Linked DNA regions of Homo sapiens: regions 1 and 3 are each linked to region 2. Evidence: fine-mapped expression QTL. A gene starts in region 2. Each other region holds a variant in brackets. All regions are shown on one strand. Distances are from middle to middle.

Region 1 (8,100 bases), 71 kb before region 2:
AAAGAGGGCAATTACCAACCCCAATACATTTGCAATGTAAATGAAACTATGCCTAAAAGATCCCTCAGTGCTTCTCAGCACAGTGCCTCAAAGCTTGAAGAACCAACTTTCACTGCCTTTTTGTAGAGATGTTTCTGGGTACTGCTTGTTTACACTGGAATTAAGAAGAAAAGGATTTACAAGTAGACTTTTGGGACTTCCAAGCTGTGGGGCATCTGCATGGCTTGCCATTGCCTGATCCACCCTCCTTCCCCCTCCTCTTAGATGCCAGGTGCCATCCTTAAATGTCTTCTCAGCAGTCCTTTGCTTATGCCTTCCAACAATCCAAGGTGTCGGGCACAACTACTATCCTGATTTTGTGAAGGAGAAAGGGGCTTGGAACAGCAATGGGTTGACAAGGCAGGTTTCCACACCCAGGCTGATACTTGTAGATTGGTCAGGGTGGTGGGTAAAAGTTAGAGGGAAAGATGCAAACCTTCTTGGAAGGCCGCGAGGTTTTGCAAAAGCTTCGAAAGAGGATTTGGCTGAAGGCAGTCAAATTCTCTTATCCGGAGCCTGAGAGCAAACGGCAGATAACAATGGAATGTAAAGAAACTTATCTAGATAAATTGGTTTCCTCCTGTCCCCAAAACCCAACCTCTGATCATTCACAAGCAGGACTGCTTTCTACTTGGGGGGTCGACAATGTTTGTTACCCACAAATTGTGTTTGCTCCAAGCTTTTGTCATTAATTCTGTACTAAATAAATGCGAGCATCACTGGCTTAGGGGGACTGCTAACTCTCTTCGGCCCCTAGTGCCGGCAGTCCCTAGCCTGCTGTTTCACTGGATACCTGTGTCTGAGTACTCCTTTCCTTTCATCTGTCACTCGGCCATAGTCTGAGGGACAGACTTGGCAGGTGGTGCCCCATGAGAGGAACGCTGCAATGGATCACAATGGAACCCTCGAAAATGAAGGTGAAGAGACTGCGCAGTCAGTAAGTCACTGGTGCCCGCTTGGGATTTCCAAGTTCGAGGGAATTGTTCAGGCTAGGGTTTCATCATGGGACAACAGTTATCAGCTCAACAGCAACAGTATATAAAAGTAATGAAACAGCTGCTTAAAGCTAGTGGAGGCTCGGTTTCGCAGGCTCAATTAAGGGACCTAATGCAAACTGTTGTTTCCCATAACCCATGGTTCCTCCCCCTTCTCCCTCAGCCCCGCTGTTACCGGGCAAAGATAACAAAGAGGAAACGGAGGTTTTGCCTGAGCCCCGTCCTCCAATAAATTGGAGAAAAGACAAGGAATATGCTACAGCTATGGGACCCTGTCTTAGGCAAGCGGCATTAGAAGGGGAGCTCTTGGCCTGCCTGGTAACGCAAAATTGACAACACAATCAGGTGTATGAACCCGTTACTTTTAACGCTTATAAAGAGATAAGGAAAAGCATTAAAGAAAACGGAGCCGCTAGCCCATTTACAAGAGGGTTGAGGTCACTCTGCAGATCTCTTTCTAATAATGGCCACTGTTGTTTCTCCCCTACCCCTGATGAGGCTCTCTCAAAATCTTATTTAGGTAGAACAGTGACCTTTAAAGGGAGAGAAATTACAAAGAGCCCATGAATTAGCTGAGGAACAATTAAAAGCCAGCCATATACAACTGTCAAACAGCCCTTGGAATTTGCCCATTTTCCTCATTCCCAAAAAGTCTGGCAAATGGAGACTTTTGCATGACTTACGGGCTATCAATGCTAATTTGCAACCTATGAGGCCCCTACAACAGGGCCTCCCTTCCCCAGCGGCAATTCCTGTAGTTTGACCTATAGTCTTATTGACTTAAACGACTGCTTTTATACTATTCCCCTTGCAGAACAGGACAGAGAAAAATTTGTGTTTAAAATACCAGTTATCAATAAAGGCCAGCTCGCCAATTTCATTGGAAAGTACTTCCTCAAGGAATACTGTGTCAGTATCATGTAAATCAGGCTTTGCTCCCCATTAGAAAAGACTTTCCTAATTGCAAGATTATTCATTTTATGGATGATATTTTACTAGCAGCTCCAACGGAGCCAGGACTTGTAAGTCTATATGCCTCTGTCGTAAAGAATACACAGTTAAGAGGTTTAATCATAGCACCTGAAAAAGTACAATTGTCTTCTCCTTAGAAATATCGTGGATACATTCTAACTTACCGGTCAGTAAGACCTTAAAAAGTTAAATACTAGCAACTTACACACATTAAATGATTATCAGAAATTACTAGGAGATATTAACTGGCTTCACCCCACCTTGGGCATAACTGATACATTACAAAACCTGTTTCTATCCTAAAGGGCAATACAGCCCTAGACTCTCCCAGGTATTTAACTCCTGCAGCAAAAAGGGAAATTGAGGAAATAGAGCATGCTATTTTTCAGAGGCAACAGGATTGCACAGACCCACGATATTCAATATTCAGTTCAATTGTTTGTTTTTCCTACTAAGCATTCCCCAACAGGATTAATAGGACAGATGTCCCCAGGGCTATGCTTCCTAAAATGAGTTTTTTGCTCACATACCAGAACTAAAACTCTATCTCCCTGTACCCAGCTAGTTAGTAAAACCATCTATTTAGGCCGCAGATGATGCAATCAGTTGCTAGGTTATGACCGTGATGTCATCGGAAGTCCTTTAAGTAAAAAGCAATTCAAAGCAGTCTTGCCCTTATCTCTAGACCTGCAAATAGCACTCTCTGATTACAAAGGCCATATAGAACATGCCCTTCCTGCCAATAAACTACTTCAGTTATTATCTAGTACTCCTGTAGTTATGCCTACAAAAGTGGTTCACCGCCACACCCCCCCACCCACAATACCTAATTCTTTAATGCTTTTTATTGACGGCTCTGGTAAAAATGGAAAAGTGGTTATTTGGTGGAGACTGCACAATTCCCTCACTTGTTCTGGATTTACTAACACTCAAGAAAGCTGAGGTTGGAGCCTTAATACTGGCCCTAGAGACCTTTCCTGCTCAGCCAATCAATATGGTTAGTGACTCTGCTTACTCTGTTTATTTATTGCAGAACCTTGAAACAGCCCTTATTAAGTCCACTCTCAAGCCCACCCTGTGTGCAGTTTTTCTTTGATTTCAGCAATCGGTGGATCAATGTACACATCCTATTTTTATTACATACATTTGGGCCCACAGCTCACTGCCTGGCCCCCTAGCTTATGGCAATGATCAAGCAGACCTGCAGGTTATGACATCACTGCTTGACCAAGCCACCCATTCGCATCAATGTTTCCACCAAAATTGGACAAATTTATCTAAACGATTTCAACTTACCCAAAGACTAAACAAATTATCCTGCAATGCCCAAATTGCCAGCTCACACGCATGTCCCCTCCTTCAACAGGTGTTAACCCTAGAGAACTAGAACCTAATCAGTTATGGCAAACAGATGTTACACACATCCCTAAATTTGGAAAACTAGGATATGTACATGCATCCGTTGATACCAATTCTCACCTAATTAGCATACATGCTCTTCCTGGAAAGTCTGCTCAATATGTTATTAAACATCTTCTTTTAACTTTTGCATTTATGGAGCGGCCCACAAAAATTAAAACTGATATTGGTCCAGCTTATGCCAGCTCAAAATTTCAGCAATTTTGTCATATGTGGAACATCCAACAATCCACAGGCATCCCTCACAACCCCCAAGGACAGGCCACAGTAGAACGTGTCCAATCCACCCTTAAAAATATGCTCAGAAAACAACAAAAAAGTGAATATGAGTAAGGACCCTGCAACACTACTGGCAGAAGCCTTATTTACCCTTACTTTTTAAAATCTAAACGATAAATTTCAATCAGCTATAGAAGAGCATTTTGCTAAAACCTCTCAAGACATAAACCTGCAGTTTTATGGAAAGATATAAACAGTAATGTATGGTGCGGTTCAACTGAATTGTTAACACTGGGAAGAAGACATGCTTGTGTTCACACCCCCTCAGGTCCTCTTTGGATTCCAGCACGAGGCATCAAACCATACCATAGCGTGGCTAGGACCCAACCCGGTACCAGAAATGAAGAAAATGACCCTGTGGGACCCATAGCCCTGGATGATGCAGCTTCTTCAGACGACACAAACCCCAGACATTACCTGGGAGATGTTGAAGAAAACTCAGAAGGCTGAATGAATCCTGCTCTGGACATAGACACCATTCACTCCAGATAATTTGTTCCTTGCTATGCTTTCCGTTGTACACTGCAACTCTTTTGGGTATTAACCCTTCTTATTCTCTCACTCTGCCTGCAACCCATACCTGCTACACGCTATTGGGATCATCATTTAGATTTGCCTTTCTTCTGCCCTGTTACCTGGGCAGACACCACCTTCCCAGCCTCCAATAAAGTAACTGCTTGGCTGGAAGGGGGTAACATACCCTCAGTGGGGTTCCTTAGTAACAGCACACATTGGACTGAGGTGCCAAGAAACACTACATGTCACTCCTTGATTGGAAAAGAATGTTACTGATTATACTCATTTTGTCTTATGTTATTTACTAATTCTAGGATGCAAAGCTGGAATACAAGCAGTAACCACTACGCCAGACAAACCAGTTGCTGCACACATCTGTACTCTTCAATCAACAAAACCTGATGCAAAAAAACAGAAAATGGGGAGATGTAGGAAATTGGTCAGAGTGGTAGGTAAAAGTTAGAGGGAAAGATGCAAACCTTCTTGGAAGGCTGGGAGGTTTTGCAAAAGCTTTGAAAGAGGATCTGGCTGAAGGCAGCCAAATTCTCTTATCTGGAGCCAGGGAGCAAAAGGCAGATAACAAGGGAATGTAAAGGAACTTATCTAGATAAATTTGTTTACTCCTGTCTCCAAAAACCAACCTTTGATCATTTGCGCTAGACAAATTTG[A/T]CTACTCCTGTCTCCAAAAACCAACCTTTGATCATTCATGTGCAGGACTGCTCTCTACTTGGGGGTCGACAATGTTTATTACCCACAAATTGTGTTTGCTCCAAGCCTTTGTCATTAAATCTCTACTAAATAAATGTGAGCGTCGCTGGCTCAGGGGGACTGCTAACTCTCTTTGGCCCTTAGTGCTGGCAGTCCCCTAGCCCACTCTTTCACTGGATACCTGTGTCTGAGCACTCCTTTCATCCGTCGCTCGGCCAGAGTCTGCAGGGCAGACTCGGCAAATGCTGCCTGATGGATCCTGGCTGCCCAGAGAAGGGCTGGAATGATGCAGAAATCAGAAGGCAACCTGGGGGTGACACAGGTAATCTGCATTTGTCAGACCTGGGTTAAATTAGCTGTAAGATCCCTTTCTATTTTAGCATCCTCTTATCACGTAATCTAAATTCTACATATCTGGAGTATTCCTTTCCTCTCCTTAGGTTTTGTACTGACTGGCTGAGATTGAATACCTTTATAGTACATGAGGCTTTTTCCACTCAGGTGAAAGTCAGCTTTTCTTTCTACAGGCTTTTACAATTTGAAATATTTATTTAAAAATACTTGTATTTCATTATCTCTTAATAATTTCCTATCTGGCAATTTCATCTTCTATATTAGATGATAAGTTTCATAAGAGTAGAGACTATCTTGCTCATGTTTTAAGTCCTTGTCAGTGATGCCTTACATGAAGTATTTGCTCAATAAGGACCTTGAAATCAAATCTAGTTAGGTATCCATCAAGATAATAGCTACATTTTAGGAAGCAACTTAATTGGAATCAGTATTTTAATGCCTAAATAAGTGCAGTTTAAATTTAACTAAAACATGATATTAACTAAAAGTTAATATTTTTTAAGATTAGAAAATGGCATTTTACAATTTTTGATGTTACTGATTTAAGAGAAAGCAATTTTGCATGGAAATGAGAAATTAATGCTTAAGTTGGCTGCTACTTGCCCATAGATGACATCTGTAAGAAATGCTAAGTATTTCCTGATAGCATCTTGTATAATATTTCAACTCTGAATACTGTCTTCTGTCCAAACACAACCTGGTCAGAGTCTATTTCAGTCAGGCCAAAGCAAAGGCCTGGAGAGAAATAGAAATTCTTTAATTACAAGGATAAACAAGTTGACCCAGTGTCGCTAAAAACTTAAAGCAGCTCCACTCTTAGCGTTTTTACAAAGTTTTATGGCTTCTTTTCTAGTTTTATCCCAGCTTATTTCAATAGCCATGATAGTCAATGTCTAGTAATCTCCAAAGAGTAGAAACTAAAAAAAAAAAAAAAAAAAAAAAAAGAGATTAAAAACAGTGATAAAGACCAATAAGAAAACAAAACTAATATCGTATTAGTTTATGGCTCACTGTAAGCTGAGATTGAGTTTCCTCTGTGGATGGTAAAACTGAGAAAACCATATGTGTTATTTCATGTAACACCCGAGTTTGAGAAAATCATATTATTTTCACAAAATGTAAAAAATAACAAAAGCTAGAAAGTATATGGGATAGTTAATGTCGGGGGCTGCAGAGAGCTCAAAGAAGACTCAAAATGGGCCATTCTTTTTAGCAACTGGTTATCACTGGTGATCTGTGGAAGACAGTTTTAAAGTGACCAAGGCCAGCCTCCTCTTGCAATAAGATTAACAATGATCACCCTGAGACAGAAAGGAACACAATGAGGATGGGTGGGAGGCAGACGATGCTCCTTTTTCTGTGAGATAATACTGAGTTATGTTAACCTTCTCAAGAAGGGAGAAGAATATACAGAGAAAAGAAAGGGCATTGGCTGTGGAGGCAGATCCTGATTTGACTATGTGCTTTCCAACTTCCTAGCAGTGGCACCTGGGCCAAGTCATCTAAACTCTCTGAACTTCAGTTTTCTCTTCCTTAAAAGGGGGATACAAAGGCCCCTGCCTTCCATGTTGTTTGGAAGACTAAATTTAAATAAAACAATGTATTTAAAATGCCCTCAATAGTCCCTTATACATAATCGGCACTTAATAAATGGTGGCTGTATTTTCTGTTATTATTAACAACAACAACAAAATGGCAATGTTTTGAGACTATTCTTTTGAAAAATATGAAAAGGTAATAATAGTGGCCAAAGAAGCAATTTTAAATATATTCTATCCCACTTGAAAATTATTGCTTGTAAGATTCATAAGATCCTATAGTATCAATATAAATGATATAATGGAAAGAATTCTAGCAGTTTGGAATCCAAGTATTTTATGTAGAAAAAAATACTGACTGAAACTGAGAAAATTTTTAAGGAAAATTTAGTATTTTCAGGTAGCCTGAATAGTTTTGGTTTATTAGTTATAATAACCACAAAAGAATCAGGATATTTCTACCTAGTTAATGATCCTGTAAGTCAAAAATAAACAAAAGTGATAAACAAGTAACTGACACTGGGAGAGCTACCATGAGGTGATGGTTTAAGAGTTCATGGAAGGGTGAAAGTGACCAAATGGCAGCTTGGTTCAGAGTCACTGGACCATTAATTACACCAACATACGGAAATCACACTTGCATGGAAGGAACCATACCAACCACTCATAAACCCAGGGAAGCTTCTCTATTTACACACAGCATTAGGTTTTATAAAGGCAAAACTATAAATTCTCTCCTCCTATTCTCCCTAATACTATAAAACCAGTTTCATAAAAGTTGCCAGATAGTTTTAACCTAATTTTATTATCATTTATTTCACTACAAACCACGTATTAGGTTTGTCATGTAATTATTACAAACCAAATATTAGGTTTTTCATGTTACTGGACAATAAACATTTTAAAAATTATTTTATAGATTGTTAATTTTTGTCTTCCTGATATGGTCCAATTCACATAAACCCTCAAGTGGTTGGACTGCTTGATCACAGATATTCAAATCCCTCTACCTTGACAGCACTTAACAGTAGAGAAGGCAAACTACTTTTCTTGGGCTTACTCTTAAAAAGATTGGACAAAATTATTTTAAAATTTCTAAGGAGGGGAGTATCCAAATAGTGATAATTCCCATTATAAGGATATAACAAACATCAGAAAAGCAATATCCTCTATAATATTAGTCCCTACTTTTTAAACAAGTTAACTAGGAAATGAGATGCAAGAAAGATTATTTACTGGTTAGGTACTTTTTTATAGTAGCTGCATCAGGCCTGGGATCA
Region 2 (8,100 bases):
CTCTCTCCTACACACACAAATTTTCATTACAAATTATTATACATGCAATTATCCTATCCATGAATTTCTTACTTTAATATTAGATAAAGAAAACCACTTCACTAGACATAAAAAGACAAAAACAGAAATGTAGGGTCAGAGGAGGGTTTTAAAAAGGCAAACCCCCTGAGGATTTGCCATGGTGTTTTGGGAGAAGTAAAGGAAAGGAGGAAGCTGAACTGCTAACAATGGAACTATATCACTCATCTCTGAGAAGGGGGAGGCTTCACATGGGAAAGAGGGACTGAAAGCATGGGCAGTTAGTATCGGTAAGAGCTTCGGTATTAAATCCTGGGTCCTGGGGTGGGAGACTGGGAAATGCTTACTGGGCTATGTTGGCTGGATGAAACAGAAATTGCCCAAAGCTTTTCCCAAAATGTCAAGAATCTAAGTTAGTGTATGTCTTCAATGTAACCAGTAAGGTAGAGGAGTTAGTGAAGGTTGGAAGATTTGCCAAACATTTGCAGAGAGGACCAGAACAAAAGGTAGGACATTTGCAGAGAGGACCAGAACAAATGGCGGGAAGTTTGCAATCTATCATAAACAACACAAAGTTAATGAGTTGACTTAAAATTTCAGGAAAGGTACTGAAAATATTCTTTTAAGCAAATAAAGATTTAATAAATATTAACCAGTGACTTTTATTCTAAGAATATAATGATTAATATAAATAAGACAATCTTTGCTTTTGTAAAGGTTACTATTGGTTGGAAAGAAAAAGTAAGTAGAGAGATGATGACAAAACAGGACAACAAATAATAGAGGTCAGGCCAGTCTGGGTAACACAGTGAGACCCTGTCTCTACAAAAAAATTAAAAAATTAGCTGGGTATGGTGGCACATGCTTATGGTCCCAGCTACTGCAGTGGCTGAGGCAGGAGGCTTGCTTAAACCCAGGAGTTTGAGGCTGAAATGAGTGGTGATCCTGCCACTGTGCCACTGTACTCCAGCCTGGGTGACAGAGTGAGACCCTGTCTTTGAGGGAAAAAAAAAAAAGAGGTTAGGACACTATCTATGAAAGCATACAAAAACATGTAAAAACACAAAACCCAACTTGGGGGGAATGAGGGAAAGCTAACTGAAAGAGAGGTAATAAAATTTTAGTGAATGTAAAAATAGAGTTTTATGAAACTACTCGTAACCTCCTCAAACCTTTTTTTTCCCTCTATGAGGAAATTATATTCCTTCATTATGCCCATATATATTTTTTCCATTCAACAAAAACATTTAACATTACAAGCACATGTCATACAATTTTGATACATGCTTTCAAAGATTTTTAAGTTAACCAGGAAAAAGTTATCTAAACAGAAACACTAAAATACATATTTCAGGTGCTATTAAGGGGATCTAAGCAAATTGCTATAACAGCAAAGAGACAAAAAGCCTAAATAACTCTTAGGAGGGATTGGGCCTTACTCACCTCTGAAGCTGCAGGCCCTAACACAATGGCAAACACACATAAATACGAGGTGGTGGGGGGAGGGGGCGCGCAGAATTAAATCAGTTGATTTTCCAAAACATAATGGTGTCAAGACCCGACTGGATCTTAAAGGATGAAGCAGGAGTTTACAGATGACGGATGGTAGAAGCCTGACGGAAGATGAAACGCCACATGTAAAGGCATGTATTGGCAAAAAGACCTGAAACATCTAGGTGAGTGTAAGAATGAAATGTTCAAGGGGAGGCAAAGGATGAAAGGTGGGGATGAAGGGGCTATGGACATAAGAAATGATGAGAACTGAGGCTACATAAGGAGGCCAGAGTTGGATGGCAAATGGCCTCATATATACCATTCAATTTTTTTTTTTAATTTTTACACAAAAGCAGTTGAGATTCCAAAATGGCTTTGTTTTAAATGAGGGTATAATACAAGGTTTTTTTTTTTTTTTAAGGAATCTAACTCTAGAAATGTGAAGGATGGATCAAAGAGAAACAAGACTGGTGGAAGGGAGACCTCCTGGCTATTGCATACATATATTCTGGTCTAGTCCAAGTTCCATCTGGTCTGTGAAACCTGACCAGTCCAGCTCTTACTGGCCAATGCTGCCCCAATCCCTGCCCCATCCCCCCAATAATCCTTGTCAATCTCTGCAAGAGTGACAGTTTGCAAGACTATATCATTTAACACAAACTTAGGCACCTGGTAGGTGCCTGAATATCTGCTGAGGAAATATGAAATCACTTACGTAACTACTACTCTTCTCATGCCACCCATCCTCCACTTGATCATGCCCACAGACCTGTCACAAAAGAATTGGGCCCAAGGAAGTCACCAAAGACTGAGACAACCCACTGTGTTCTTCCACGTTTTCACTTGTGCCTCTAGTCCTTTATTCAGACCCCACCCGGCTTTCCAAACTGCCAGTTCAGCCTCATCTTCCTCCTATTTCATTCTTTCCTTCCTTTTTCTTTCTATCCATCCTCTAATCTTAATGATGTACACATATATCTACAAAATAAATCTGTTAAAGGTACAGGAAAAAAAAATCCTCACGTTTGCAAGCCACCGTACCCAATTTCTTTTAACTGGCTATGTTTAGGCCAATATCTGAGTCAAGGTTGTTAAAAGAGAAGACTTATGCTTTCATTTTATTTCAATATTTTATCATCTGAATATTTATTACATGCAAATATCTAACATATATTTACCCTCCAAATAGTTGGTGATGAAAGATCCAGCATAAACTTCTATTCACTTATGGTGGGAGCTAAATATTGAGTACACATGGACACAAAGACGGGAACAACAGATACTGGGGATCCCAAAGGGAAGGGGTGGAAATAAGACTGAAACACTACCTACTGGGTACCACGCTCACTACCTGGGTGACAGGATCAATCACACCCCAAACCTTAACATCAGGCAATACCCCCATGTAACAAACCTGTACTTCTACCTTCTGAATCTAAAATAAAAGTTGAAATTATATATACAAAAAAGAATAAATATCATTGCCAAAATAGTTTAATATTTTTCTTGAGCATTTAAAAAAGTCACATGTAATTAGCCAGTCCTCTTATAATCAATTTTCACAACAAGGCTGTGGGGTGAAAATTATTGTTACTTTAGAGAGAGTAACAGAATAATGTGAGAAACAGATCTGGAAATTCTACCAACAAATTCTACCAAGCAGCACTTCTCCAAACTTTTCTGACCCTCTTATTATCCTGACAAAAGAACCGGTGAACCACTTATCCCAGCTGTTTTCCTCCCACTCATCCTATAAAAAGTAAACACACTCCACAGCTGAATGAAAAGCATTATTACTTTGTAATAAAGCCCCAAATGAGTTGATAGCTGTCATTGTTCTAAGTCTTTAAGTTATTAATACAACGACAACTATATAACTCCAGTTACCGGGAGGGAATTCAGTACCTGATCCTCTTCTGATTCACAAAAGATGTGCTGTACTCCAGAGTGGTGCTGAAGAACACACACCAGGAATCAAGATTCCCAGGGGTTTCTAAGCAGATTCGGCCAGACTCCCCCTCGTTACTTCCAAAATGCTACCTCAATAATCAGAAAGCACGATAAAGGATCCAGAAGGGAAGGGACATTGTGGGGAGGAGGATGAGTGTTTAGTGTAGAAAGGAGGATAAGATAGCCAGGGGCTGATCAACGAGAGATCAGCATACAGTAGGATTAGTCAGGGATGCTGGGAGATGGATCTTGAATAACGGTGAAATTTTATTACTGGATTTCAGTAAAGGGTTAAAAGTACAAAAGTTAAACTTTAAAGACTTTAAACAGAATGCTTTTAACGAGAGACAACATACTTTCAAAAAAACTACCTTCTGGTATGATACCTTGAATCTACAGATTTTAAAGTTGCCTAAGGCAAAAAACTAAGTAATTTTTAAAAACCGTCGTATGTTTTCAGGTTTAAAAAAAAAAAAGTCGCATATTTTCATAAGGTCTGAGAAGCTCGCCAAAACCAAACCTAACTGAATTCTCCTTATGTAAACGAAGACTAAGCCACAAGATTCAATGACCCTAAGCAAACACGCTGCAGAAGACCGTTTAAAAATAGAATACACAAAACTACCACAGGAAACAATTCCGGAAGAGGACTGGGTTATCTTCTGGAAACCCAGCTTTCGTGCTTAAAGACAAACTATTCTTCCCCAAACCAAATCTCCCGATCCCTAAACATTAAGTTCTCACATGTCAGTTGCCTATCTGGTGTCTCCACCCCACCCCAATGATAAAAGCTGTAAAATTCTCTTTAAAAACGTCAGGCTGGGACCGGTGTCCGAGGCACGAGGGGTAGGCAGAGGAAGGCGGCGTGGAGGGAAGGAGCCTGGGGGGTCCGGCCTGGCAGCGCCGAAGCGAGAAGGAAGGGGAGTCCCTGGGGCCAAAGGGGGACCCAGGCTTCCCCAGGCAGCCGCGCCGGGCACGCTGCTTTTGTTGAGCTGGGGGGACCACGGCCCAACCTGGGGTCCGGGCCCTCGCCCGCCCAGCGACCCTGGCACTGTGCGCCGTTGAGTCCCCTTGGCGGGCGCCCGTCCCTCCCGCGCCTGGCTCTGACCTCTGCCCACCCCGGTGCTGCCCACCCCGGCCCGGACTCGGCCGCAGAGCGGGGCTTTGGCCTGCCGGGCTCCGAGACTGTGTCCCCACCCGCGTCCCCGGCCGCCCGCGCCCCCGCGCCCGGGCCCTCGGGGGCCGCCTCACCTGCATGCCCGGAGCCCCCGGGTCGACCCCCGTGTCCAGGACTGCGATGAGCACCCCCCGCCCATCATACTCCGGGTAGCGGCAGAGGAAGGAGGCGGCTCCGGTCTCCTTCTTCGGCAGGAGACCGTGAAAAGGGAAGGGCTCCTCAGTCGCAGCGGTGGCCATGGACGCAGGATGGAGGACGAGGAAGCGGCAAACTGCCAGGCTGCGCGCGGACTAGCAGCGCGAGGACACCCGTGCGGCCTCGGGCCGGAGGCGGGGGCGAGGGGCGGGGTCGGCCCGTCTTCCACCAATCCCGGCCTGCCAGGGAGCGGTGGCCAATCACGTGCTGCTACGTAAGCCAACGGCGCCGCTCTCAGGAGCTAGGCCCGAGTATTGCCCGGGCTGCAGTGAAGGGGGAGGAGTCTGAGGACATTACTGGAGGGTTCGGATCTCGAACCTGGGGCCTTGAAGAGGCCCGCGCTTGGGGTTTTTAGGCAACAGCAGGCCTCCAAGCAGAGTCCTGGTGTCCCGGACCGAATCACTCCCCGAGAGACGGGCAAGGAGATGGACCGCCAGCCAGGAATAATGGGAACCCTTCGCTTGGCAAACGATAGTTTCCAAACTTAAGGTTGTGGATGAAACTTTTTGGTGCGGCTGCTGCAGGAGCCCCAGCCCCGGGGTGCTGCTGACCCGAGGCAAGGGAGCCGGCGCACTCACGCTTAGCCGCTAAGGAGTCTGCGGTGTCGGCGAAAGCTCCGGACATGATTTTGGAAGGTCGTAGGTTAAGGGGTGTAGACTTTGGGTTCCCCTGTGTTGTTATGCCCCTTTGATGGGGGTGAGGTGGTGAGGGGGAGCAATAGGGTGGAGACAGGCAATAGTTTCAGTCAACAGGAAGTGGGTTGTTGGTCATTCCGTCGCCTTTGTAGCCAGTAACAAAGCACGAGACTGAAATGGGCCCCTCCTATCCTCTGCTGATCCTTAGCTTCCGGGATTTCTGAAAAACATCTTTTTTTTTCCTCTTACACTGAAGTTTCTGATTGCTCCTTACGGCTGTCCACTCAATTATAGAGCCATAATTTTCAGTTTTCCAGATTCACAGTGCCTGCCGTCAGTTGCTGCAAGCTGCATAGTGGTCCTCTAATGATCTTTATGTCTATGCTCATGCCAGGGTAATCTTAGCCTTTTATTGTGCCGAAGACCCCTTTGGCAATCTGGTGAGGCCTATTTCTCAAGCAGTGTTTTAAAATGCATACAATGAAATAGATAGGATTACCCAGGAAATAAATTATGTTTAAATGCAGTTATCAAAAATACTAAAGGCAATTTTGTTATATAGCAGGAGCTTTACGTGTGTGTGTATAGTTACAGGTGTACTTCTTTTGCATTAAATAACAGGAGCTAGGGCCAAGGCTAATAAACTACCATAACTTCAAAATAGTGAAGAATATAATTATTTGGAGATAGCGGTGAAAACTGCACTACGATGAACTGATTTTTATTGGTGACATAACAGCATAACTACCCTGGTTTTTGCCTACATTCATACTTGATGTGAAAAAAATTAAGAGGTTTGTATCTTTTTTCTACGGAAGTTTTTGAACCCCTTGGATTCTGTCTATGGACACCAAGTTAAGAATACCTGGTATAAAGGAAAGCCTTATGCATGCGGTTTCCAACCCACAGAATTTCAGAGATCCTCCATTAAGTCTCAAAAATTATTCTTATGGCTGTGCAATGGTTTCAGCTGATTCCTTGATCATTTATTCAGTCCATAAGTCTTACACAAGCATGTTCTCTTTAGTGCAGAGGAAAAAGAAAAGTTGAATGTTTTTCTTCTTATTCCCAACTGTTTACATTACCTCTAGAAAAGAATTTCAAATTAACACAGACGAAAACAGAATAACAAACTCGCAGAAGACATTCAGTATAGAGCTTATAGTGATAGAACAGAATGGCTCCCAGTTTCAAGTGAACCATAGTCCAATCACTTCATTTTATAGATGAAGAAACAAAGTTAACTGACTGTCATGGATTACAAAACAGGTTGATGAAAACACGGGATTTGTCTTCTCACAATCTCTCCCCAGTATGTTCTACCACACCATGTGCATGACTTTGCCAGAGTATCACCCAATGAATAAATGGGGAATGAACAGTTTATTATGAAACCTAGGTGGCAGACTTTTTATTAGACTGCCGTAACAATGTTCTTTAGATTTTTCTTTTCCTTTCCTTTTCTTTTTCTTTTTTGACACAGAGTCTCACTCTGTGGCCCAGGCTGGAGTGCAATGTCACAATCTCGGGTAACTGTAACCTCCGCCTCCCGGGTTCAAGCAGTTCTCCTGCCTCAGCCTCCCGAGTAGCTGGGATTACAGGTGCATGCCACCACACCTGGCTAGTTTTTGTATTTTTAGTAGAGACGGGGTTTCGCCATGTTGGCCAGGCTGGTCTTGAACTCCTGACCTTAGGGGATCCACCCACCTCGGCCTCCCAAGGTGCTCAGATTACAGGCATCAGCCACTGCACCCGGCCAGATTTTTCTTTTTTTGCTTACATATCCCATAAACATGTTTTTAAAAAAGTTATGTATCCCTTTGTACAGCTGTAAAATGAAGTCTAAATTTGTCACAATTTTTTTTTTTTTTTTTGAGATGGAGTTTTGCTCTTCTTGCCCAGGCTGGAGTGCAATGGCGGGATCTCGGCTCACTGCAACCTCCACCTCCCGGGGTTCAAGTGATTCTCCTGCCTCAGCCTCCCAAGTAGCTGGGATTACAGGCATGTGCCACCACACCCAGCTAATGTTTGTATTTTTTTAAATAGATACGGGGTTTCTCCATGTTGATGTCAGACTGGTCTCGAACTCCCGACCTCAGGTGATCCACCCGCCTCGGCCCCCCAAAGTGCTGGCATTACAAGCGTGAATCACTGCGCCCGGCCTATCATAAATTTTAAAAATTATAAAGGATGTAATTTCTGGCATAGTATAAATATCGTCATTATTTAATGAAACTTTCACGTTTCTCATGTAAATATACCCAGTTGAGTGTAACTCTGATAGCTACCATCAACTATTTATAAAATATCTGAACACTTAAAAGCAGACATTTTATATCACTATTTCTTCTGGAAACTTTATTTCCATTCTATATGGAATTTTTTCTCATTGTAATTTGCATTTATAATGGAAAGGCATATTGATAATGTATCATCATCTGCAATAAAAATATATTAATTTTAAAAATTTTCCTGGAAGAAAAATGTTAAACTTATTCTTTTGGGTTATCTTTCAGTTATTACAAAGTTGATTACAACAACATGAGTAAGTCTTAAGCTTTGATTAAAAATTACAGGACAAAAAAATTTTTATTGAAAATAGAGCTCTTAAAAAGATGCTTGGTATAAATA
Region 3 (8,100 bases), 110 kb before region 2:
TTTTATTGTCTCTGTATTAAGGCATGCTGCAATTCTTTCTTTTGGGAGAAATCCCTGTGTTATTATTCCAGTATCTAGAGTGATTCATATGTCTGGAATGACAAGACGATCCCATATTGAAGCCACTGATAATGCCATCGTTATTGCTGTGCTGGGAAGAGATCCAAGACTAGTAACTAAATCAGCTGATCTTCAATGTGTGTAAAGCACTTAAGCTACCCTGCAATTCAGGGTTTCCACTTGCACAGACTTGACGATTGAATTCTGATTTCCACTCAGGGTTTTCTATTAACATTGTGAGAAAGGATTAGTAAAATATTGACTTATGGAATTTTGTTCTGGGAGAACTAAAACAGAAGCTAACCTGTTATTGCAAATAAAGTCTCTTAACTAAAACGTTGAATCTTGAATATCGTTGCTATTTACTTTTATTATGTGTGCAGTTATTTAAAAGACGTCTTTAGAGTAGTTTTAGGCTCACAGCAAAATTAAGCAGAAAACACAGAGAATTCCCATACACCCCATATGCCACTCATCTCTCCCCAGCCTCCCCCTCTATCAGTATCTCACACCAGAGCGGTACATTTGTCACAATTGATCAACCTACATGGACACTTATCACCCAAAGTCTATAGTTTACATTAGGGTTCACTCTTAATGCACATTAAGACAAATGTATGACATGTACTCACCATTATCCTCTCATATGGAGTAGTTACACCACCCTCAAAGTCCTCTGGGCTCTACCTATTCATCCCCCTCAACCCCACCTCCTGGAAACCACTGATCCTTTTACTGTCTCCATTGTTTTGCACTCCCCAGAGTGCCATATAGTTGGAATCATACAGCATGCAGCCTTTCCAGACTAGCTTTTTTCACTTAGTAATATGTATTTAAGATTCCTCCATGTCTCTCCATGGCTTGGTCATTTCTTTTTAGTGCTGAATAATAATCCATTGCCTGGATGTTCTACAGTTTACTTATCCATTCACCTATTGAAAGACATCAGGGTTTCTTCGAAGTTTTGGCAATTACAAATAAAGTTGCTTTGGAACCAACCCAAATGCCCATCAGTGATAGACTGGATAAAGAAAATGTGGCACGTATACACCATAGAATACTATGCAGCCATAAAAGGAATGAGATGAGATCATGTTCTTTTCAGGGAACATGGATGAAGCTGGAAACCATCATTCTAAGCAAACTAACACAGGAACAGAAAACCAAACACTGCCTGTTCTCACTCATAAGTGGGAGCTGAACAATGAGGACACATGGACACGGGGAGGCAAACAATACACACCAGGGCCTGTCAGGGGTGGGGGACTAGGGAGACCAGGACAAATACCTAATGCATGTGGGGTTTAAAACCTAGATGACTGGTTGATGGGTGCAGCAAACCACCATGGCACATATATATCTAGGTAACAAACATGCACATTCTGCACATGTATCCTGGAACTTAAAGTAAAATAAAAAAAATTTTAAAATAAAGTTACTATAAATATCCATGTGCAGGGTTTTTGTGGACATAAACTTAGGGTTCCATAAGTTTTCAGCTCATTTAGGTAAGTATCAAAAACCTTGTTTGCTGGATTGTATAATAAGAGTACGTTTATTTAGTTTGGTAAGAAACCACTGAGCTGGGTCGGGCGCAGTGGCTCTCGCCTGTAATCCCAGCACTTTGGGAGGCCGAGGAGGGTGGATCACAAGGTCAGGAGATTGAGACCATCCTGGCCAACATGGTGAAACCCCGTCTCTACTAAAAACACCAAAAATTAGCCAGGTGTGGTGGTGGGCACCTGTAATCCCAGCTACTCAGGAGGCTGAGACAGGAGAATCGCTTGAACCCGGGAGGTGGAGGTTGCAGTGAGTTGAGATCACACCATTGCACTCCAGCCTGGGCAACAAGAGCAAAACTCTGTCTCAAAAAAAAAAAAAAAGAAGAAATCGCCAAACTGTCTTCCAAAGTTGCTATAACCATTTTTGCATTCTCACCAGCAATGAAAGAGACTTCCTATTGCTTTGTATCCTCACCAGCATTTGGTATTGTCAGTGTTCTGGCTTTTGGCCATTCTAATAGGTATATAGTGGTGTCTTGTTTTAATTTGCATTTTCCTGATGACATATGATGTTGAGCATCTTTTCATCTGCTTATTTGCCATCTGTGTATCTTGTTTGGGGAGGTTTCTGTTCAGATCTTTTGTCCATTTTTGATTGAGTTATTCATTTGCTTATCGTTGGGTTTTAAGAGGTTTTTTTTGCATATTTTGGATAAAAATCCTTTATCAGATATGTCTTTTGCAAATATATTCTCCCAGTCTGTGATGTGTCTTATTCTCTTGGTGGTGTCTTTTGCAGAGCAGAAGTTTAAGCTTTAATGAAGTCCAGGATATCAATGTTTTCTTTCATGGCTGGTTTGTTTTTATTTGACTCATTGTTTTCCTTCTCACTGCCCTTGATGACTAATAGGGACCTCTCCTCCACTTTCTGTGCCCCAGTATTCATTATGCCATTTCTATGGATCCTACACAATTGCCATGGGCATCAAATGAGATGGTGTTTATAGATGGGGTTTTTAAACTGAAAAGCAGCAGTACACCTATCAGGTGACATTACTAGTCTATTGACAGTACACACACACACACACACACACACACACACACACCACATGCACATATATATCCACATGCTTTTATTTCTTTCTTCTTTGGCCAGTGGATTGTATTCATTATACCAATTAAAAAGAGACCATCATTCTTTTTTTTAAAAAAAAAGGAAAAATGTAATAAAGAGACCAATTTTTAGTCAGGTGCAGTAGTCACATCTATAATCCCAAAGACTTGGGAGGTTGAGGCGGAAGAATCATTTCAGCCCAGGAGATCAAGGCTGCAATGAGCCATGATTGCGCCACTGCAAACCAGGCTGGGCAACAGCGCAAGCAAAATCCCAACCTGTTAAAAAGAGAGAAGACAGAGAGAGACCATTTTTTTTTTTTTTTTTGTATTACAGTTGACAATAGCATTTGAAATCTAAGAGATAAGAAGCTGTAAATGTCATCTTTCATTCCAGAGCTTTTAGAAGGTTACCTTTCTCTGTCTCAGGGAGAAGTGTATCTATTTCAGTGCCCTCTGTCTCTGGAAGGGACAAAAATTCTTGCATGACCCAGGTTCCTCATGCCACTTCTTGATCTAGCTGTGCACTTCCTTGTGAAATCTAGTTTTAGCAAGAAGCTTGCTAAGTCAGTTTAGCCAGAACCCTTGATATCTGATCATCTTCCATCTTCCTCATCTTCAGGGTAAGATTCCTCATCCTCCACCATCCCCTAGGTGATGTCTCATACCCCGACCTGTCTTCAGCAAGAATCCTGTTAGGTCGGTTTAGCCAGAATCCTCCTTACCCAGATGTTACCTCATAGTAATTTTCTATCCACTGACCCCCTCCCTGCTCCTTGACTATAAGTTCTTACTTGCCCCTGCTGTGGTAGAACTTGACCCTGTCAACTTGAAATAATCGAAAGAATTAGAACCTAGCTTGAAAGAAGTTATTTAAGCTTTGAAAAGCTGAGAATATCCATCTGGGAAACACAGACTCCAGAGAAATGAGGTGAGCGCTCTGACGTTAAAAATTAAGCTTTTGCTTATATAGGCAGAAAACAGAGAAGTTTAGTTGGATTGTAACATTTTCTATACAAAGCTGGTTTATGAGTTACGGCAATTTAAATGGTGACAGTTTGTTTGCTGCTTGTTTTCATTTTCTTTCCAATTTAAAACAGTATATTTAGTATTGCATCTTAAGACAATGTGATAGCCATAAAGTCTTTGTGTGAGAAAGGTAGGGAGAAAGTTAATCTATAATGAAGATCCACAGTGAATAGGGAAGAGGTCTTCCCTGAGGCCCTTAAGTCATTTACATTTAATAGAACAATGTAGGGAAGGAAGAAGTTTAATCTCTAATCAGAGAAACACAGGTTTCAGTTGCCTGGGTTATGTCTGCCTGCTTGCCTGACTCAGGCCCCATAATCACATTCCTTTAAGGGTCAAAATAATTTAAAGTTCCAACAGCTTAGATTTTGAATTATATATTTTCACAAGCCCCATCTCCCCCACCACAAAACCTCACTGCCGTGGTTCCTCCACCAACCCTGATGATCCTGAATAACATCTGCTTCACTGTGCTGTAACGAGCGTCGCTGAATAATGTTTCCTTTAACAGAAGCGCCAAGAACTATCTTTGCGATTTTGCAAGATTTTCCCAGTTTACATTCATCTCCTGCTTCAGGGTTTTCTTTCCATTTATTTTGACAAAACTAAATGAAACTGGCAGTTAACTTTAACTGAGTAATGAAAGACAACAAAAAGCAAACAGAGCTGGAGACAGAGAGAGAAAAAGAACACCAATGAATTAACTGTGGCAGCACCTTGAGATTTGATGTTTTCTGGCCTGCAGGCCTGGCTACGGGGCACCTAGAACCCTCAGGGCTAGAAGTTCCAGCTGCCCATTGACTAAGCTCTAGGAAAGGAGAGGAAGGAGCAGAAGAGAGCAGGGAGGGGAAAGGAGAAGGGCAGCACGTGAAGCTCTAAAAGCTTCTGATTTATTTTGCTGAAGATCTAGTCATCAGCTATAGAAAGAAAGGTGTCATTGGTAAATGTCATAACCAGGTGGTTTATGATAGCTCATGTTACCTCTATCCCACTGCAATGAGAGTATTTATTTGAAGCTGTCTCTCCATCAATTACAGGGAAAGATCTTGAGAAAAAGACAGTTTCATGTAACATCTTTCAATATATTTTATTCCATGGTACTTTGGAATTATTGTTATATAGCAAATGGCATATTTTAAAAATTACCCTTTCTAAATTTTTGTTGTTCGTATATAAGAATGCTGTTTTTGGGGTTGGTTGCAGTGGCTCACGGCTGTAATCCTAGCACTTTGGGAGGCCGAGGTGGGTGGATCACCTGAGGTCAGGAGTTC[G/A]AGGCCAGGCTGGCTAACATGGTGAAACCCTGTCTCTACTAAAAATACAAAAATTAGCCTGGCATGTTGGCACATGCCTGTAATCCCAGCTACTTGGGAGGCTGAGGCAGGAGAATCACTTGAACCCAGGAAGCGGAGGTTGCTGCAGTGAGTGGAGATTGCGCCATTGCACTCCAGCCTGGGCAACAAGAGCGAGACTCCGTCTCAAAAAAAAAAAAAAATCCTGTTTTTGTACAGGATCTTACACGCAGTTGATAAACTCCTTCATTAGTTCCAAATAGTTTGTCTATAGAATTTATTGCATATTCTATATGGAAAATCATGTCATCTACAAACATGAAACTTCGTTTATTCCTTTCCAATTGTTACAGCTCTTATTTCATTTCCTTGCTTTTATCATACTGTCCAGACTTCTACACAATGCTAAATAGGAACAGTGACAGTGGATATTGTTGTCTTTTTCCTGTCTTTGTAATTTTCCTCCATTTAATGTGTGTATTATGTATAAATAATGAATATATTTAATGTGGGCTTTCAGTGGACACATGTTGTCAGGTTTATGAAGTCTCTCTCTCTCTTTCTGTCTCTCTCTCTCTCTCTCTACATATATATATATGTATATATATACACACACACTTTTTTTTTTTGAGGCAGAGTCTTGCTCTGTCACCTAGACTGGAATGCAAGGGCACGATCTCAGCTCACTACAACCTCCACTTCCCAGGTTCAAGTGATTCTCCAGCCTCAGCCTCCAGAGGAGCTGGGACTACAGGCACCCGCCACCACACCAGACTAATTTTTGTATTGTTAGTAGAGACGAGTTTCACCATGTTGTTTAGGCTGGTCTCAAACTCCTGATCTCAAGTGATTTGCCCGCCTCAGCCTCCCAAAGTGCTGGAATCATAGCATGAGCCACTGGGCCCTGCCGAAGTCCCCTAATATTTATGTTGGTTTTAAAAGACCATGAATGATGTTGACTTGTACCAAACTTTTTTATATATCTTTCAAGATGATCATATAGTTTTTCTTCTTTAGTCTGTTAAAGGGAGGAATTACACACAAATTCCCCTTTTATCAGCTCCCACTAATATTGCAGCATGTGCCTTGTACTTTTCTTCATGCTCGTAGAATAATCATTTGACAAGAGTATGCACACAGCCACACATGCATGCACACACACGCACATACACACACACACACACAATCAGGCTAGACTAGAAGTATGTGTGATAACAAACCTCCAGCATCTCAGTGGTTTGTCCCCTAAACGTTTGTCTTGGTCATATAAGATTTGCACGCAAGGGGCAGTGGTTGTCCGTGAGAAGGTGCAGCTATGGAGGCAGCTTCCTTGAATGGCTTCATTATTTCTCCACCCAAATACTTTGCTTTTTACTAGAGAATGGGGTAGAAGCAGATTGGAGAAGTTCCCAGAGGCATTTCCTTCCAGAACCTGGTGGAGTTGGTATGTGAAAGGTGCTATGTCTCTCAGAGACGAAGGAAACAGAACCCCAGAGCTGAAGAGGCGCATCTAGGCCACTTATTTGGAAAGGGGGAGGGCTCAGCTTCCAAGGAACAGGCTCTCTGTTGCTTTTCACCTGGATAGATATTTAAATAATTCAGAGTATTTCCCCCCAAACCTTGACAGCATGGCCTCATGGGAGAACGTCTCTCCAATGGAGTCCATTCCTTCCCCTAGAACAGGGGAAGGAATGAAAGGAATTCCGCGTTGTGGCACATCCCAGAATAGTTCCATCAGGTAAACACATTCTTTCCTAATAGAAATCTGTTGGGAAAAAATGATCTTTCTGAACAGTGGTCAACTGCTGTTGCTAAAATCGGAGCATGATTAGTGACAACTAAGTCCCCTCTCAAAAGTGTCATGTCCAAGCAGCGGACGGCGCTATGGAAAGAACGGACAGCGTTGGAGGCATCTGCTCCTGGCTGGGAGTCGTAGGGTGTCAGAGTCATGGGGCAGCCTCTCCTGCTGCTTCCCAGGCCTCACAGTAAAACAGGAACCGAGGCATCCTTGCCCCTCCTCAGCTTCAAAGCTGAATCACTGTGAAGATATGGTGTTTCCACACTGATACATTTATTTCACTTCATTTATCTGAGGATTAAAGTGAGCTGCAGAAAGGTATCATTTATTAAAGTGGAAAATAGAATAAATGTCGTTGCCAGAGTATCCCTTATTTCAAGCACATTTTCAGTGTCAGACTTTCTCATCCAAACTTGTTTCCCAAGCACAGCGTTCCTCCGTGTAATTAATATCACATGCTTATAGCTCAGCTGCAAAGCATTCTTGGCTATTTTGATAACATGAAACCTGGCAGTTACCCGTTGTGATTTACACATAGTTGCAGTTGGAGATTTTTCTAAAATTACAATAAAATTTCTTTGAGGGGAAATCTGTTTTAAGGACTGGATTGGGGAAAGAAAATAAAAAATAGAAGCGAACAACTAAGTATGTCTATTCTCCAAAGTGCATATAAGTCTATCAAGGCAACACACTGGCCTTTGATCAGAGCCACTTTACAAGGCAGGTGATTTATGGACAGCCAGGCCATCCCCTGCAGTGAAGCCTGGGGCTCGAATGCTTAGGGACAGGCATGTGCTATTTTTAAAATAAAAAGACTATAACTTCACTGCTGTTTCCAAACCTATTGGATTATTTTACTGCTATGCTTTATTTCCTTCTTCACTGGTAATGTTGGTCATCTAAGATGAAACAGAAGTAATATTTTCCATGTTCGCAAGTCTGACAAATTTTAGTTTACAAAATTCCTTTCTCTGCAGGTGGAGATTTGACACTGTACCTGAGTGGGTATAGGATTTAATTGTTACCAGAGCCAAATCCAAAGCAGGAAGAATCCTGTCTTAAAATCCTGAAGCACAGGTGTTCTAAGTGGCCTCAGTCTTTGCATCCCATATAGAAGCAGCTGGCAGTCACAGCGGCTGCTCTCAGGGGACTCCCCCAGAAGTCTGGCCAGTGCAGGGCTGGGTCGGGGGGGTATTGCAGCAGCCCTGGACCATTTGACAGACAGGATTCTGACATTTGGGCCACTGTGTTACCAGCTAATTGAGGGACCAGAAGTTATGAAATTGCATGATTTCACTTTGACCTTTTC

Direction of the effects. Alleles are on the strand shown, and positions count from the first base shown. SD is a standard deviation of normalised expression in the study named.
In carriers of allele A in region 1, the expression in monocytes of the gene that starts at base 4,931 in region 2 tends to be higher than with T alone (large effect, 0.77 SD a copy in Quach 2016).
For the expression in skeletal muscle of the gene that starts at base 4,931 in region 2, A is the low allele of the variant in region 3 and G is the other (moderate effect, 0.50 SD a copy in FUSION).

The links. PIP is the estimated chance that this variant, and not a neighbour inherited with it, causes the effect.
Region 1: its variant is the best candidate, but not a certain one, in a credible set for the expression of TPP2 in monocytes (Quach 2016, PIP 0.75).
Region 3: its variant is the best candidate, but not a certain one, in a credible set for the expression of TPP2 in skeletal muscle (FUSION, PIP 0.60).

What each region holds. Positions count from the first base shown.
Region 1 is chr13:102,664,893-102,672,992 of GRCh38, reverse strand. It overlaps TPP2 (tripeptidyl peptidase 2), which reads right to left. Exons shown (of 30, transcript NM_001330588.2): 27 at 8,068-8,100. Among named protein-coding and RNA genes, the nearest start is that of METTL21C, 26 kb to the left of the region's middle. The variant A/T (reference allele first, on the strand shown) is at 4,890.
Region 2 is chr13:102,593,817-102,601,916 of GRCh38, reverse strand. It overlaps TPP2 (tripeptidyl peptidase 2), which reads right to left and starts at 4,931. Exons shown (of 30, transcript NM_001330588.2): 1 at 4,714-4,931. The coding sequence starts at 4,878. It overlaps LOC107984588 (a long non-coding RNA gene), which reads left to right and starts at 4,975. Exons shown (of 2, transcript XR_001749984.3): 1 at 4,975-5,469; 2 at 7,516-8,100. RefSeq lists silencers at 4,418-4,707, 4,868-5,157 and enhancers at 5,228-5,287, 5,338-5,497.
Region 3 is chr13:102,699,686-102,707,785 of GRCh38, reverse strand. It overlaps a transcript of METTL21C not described here. Among named protein-coding and RNA genes, the nearest start is that of METTL21C, 8.7 kb to the right of the region's middle. The variant G/A (reference allele first, on the strand shown) is at 4,976.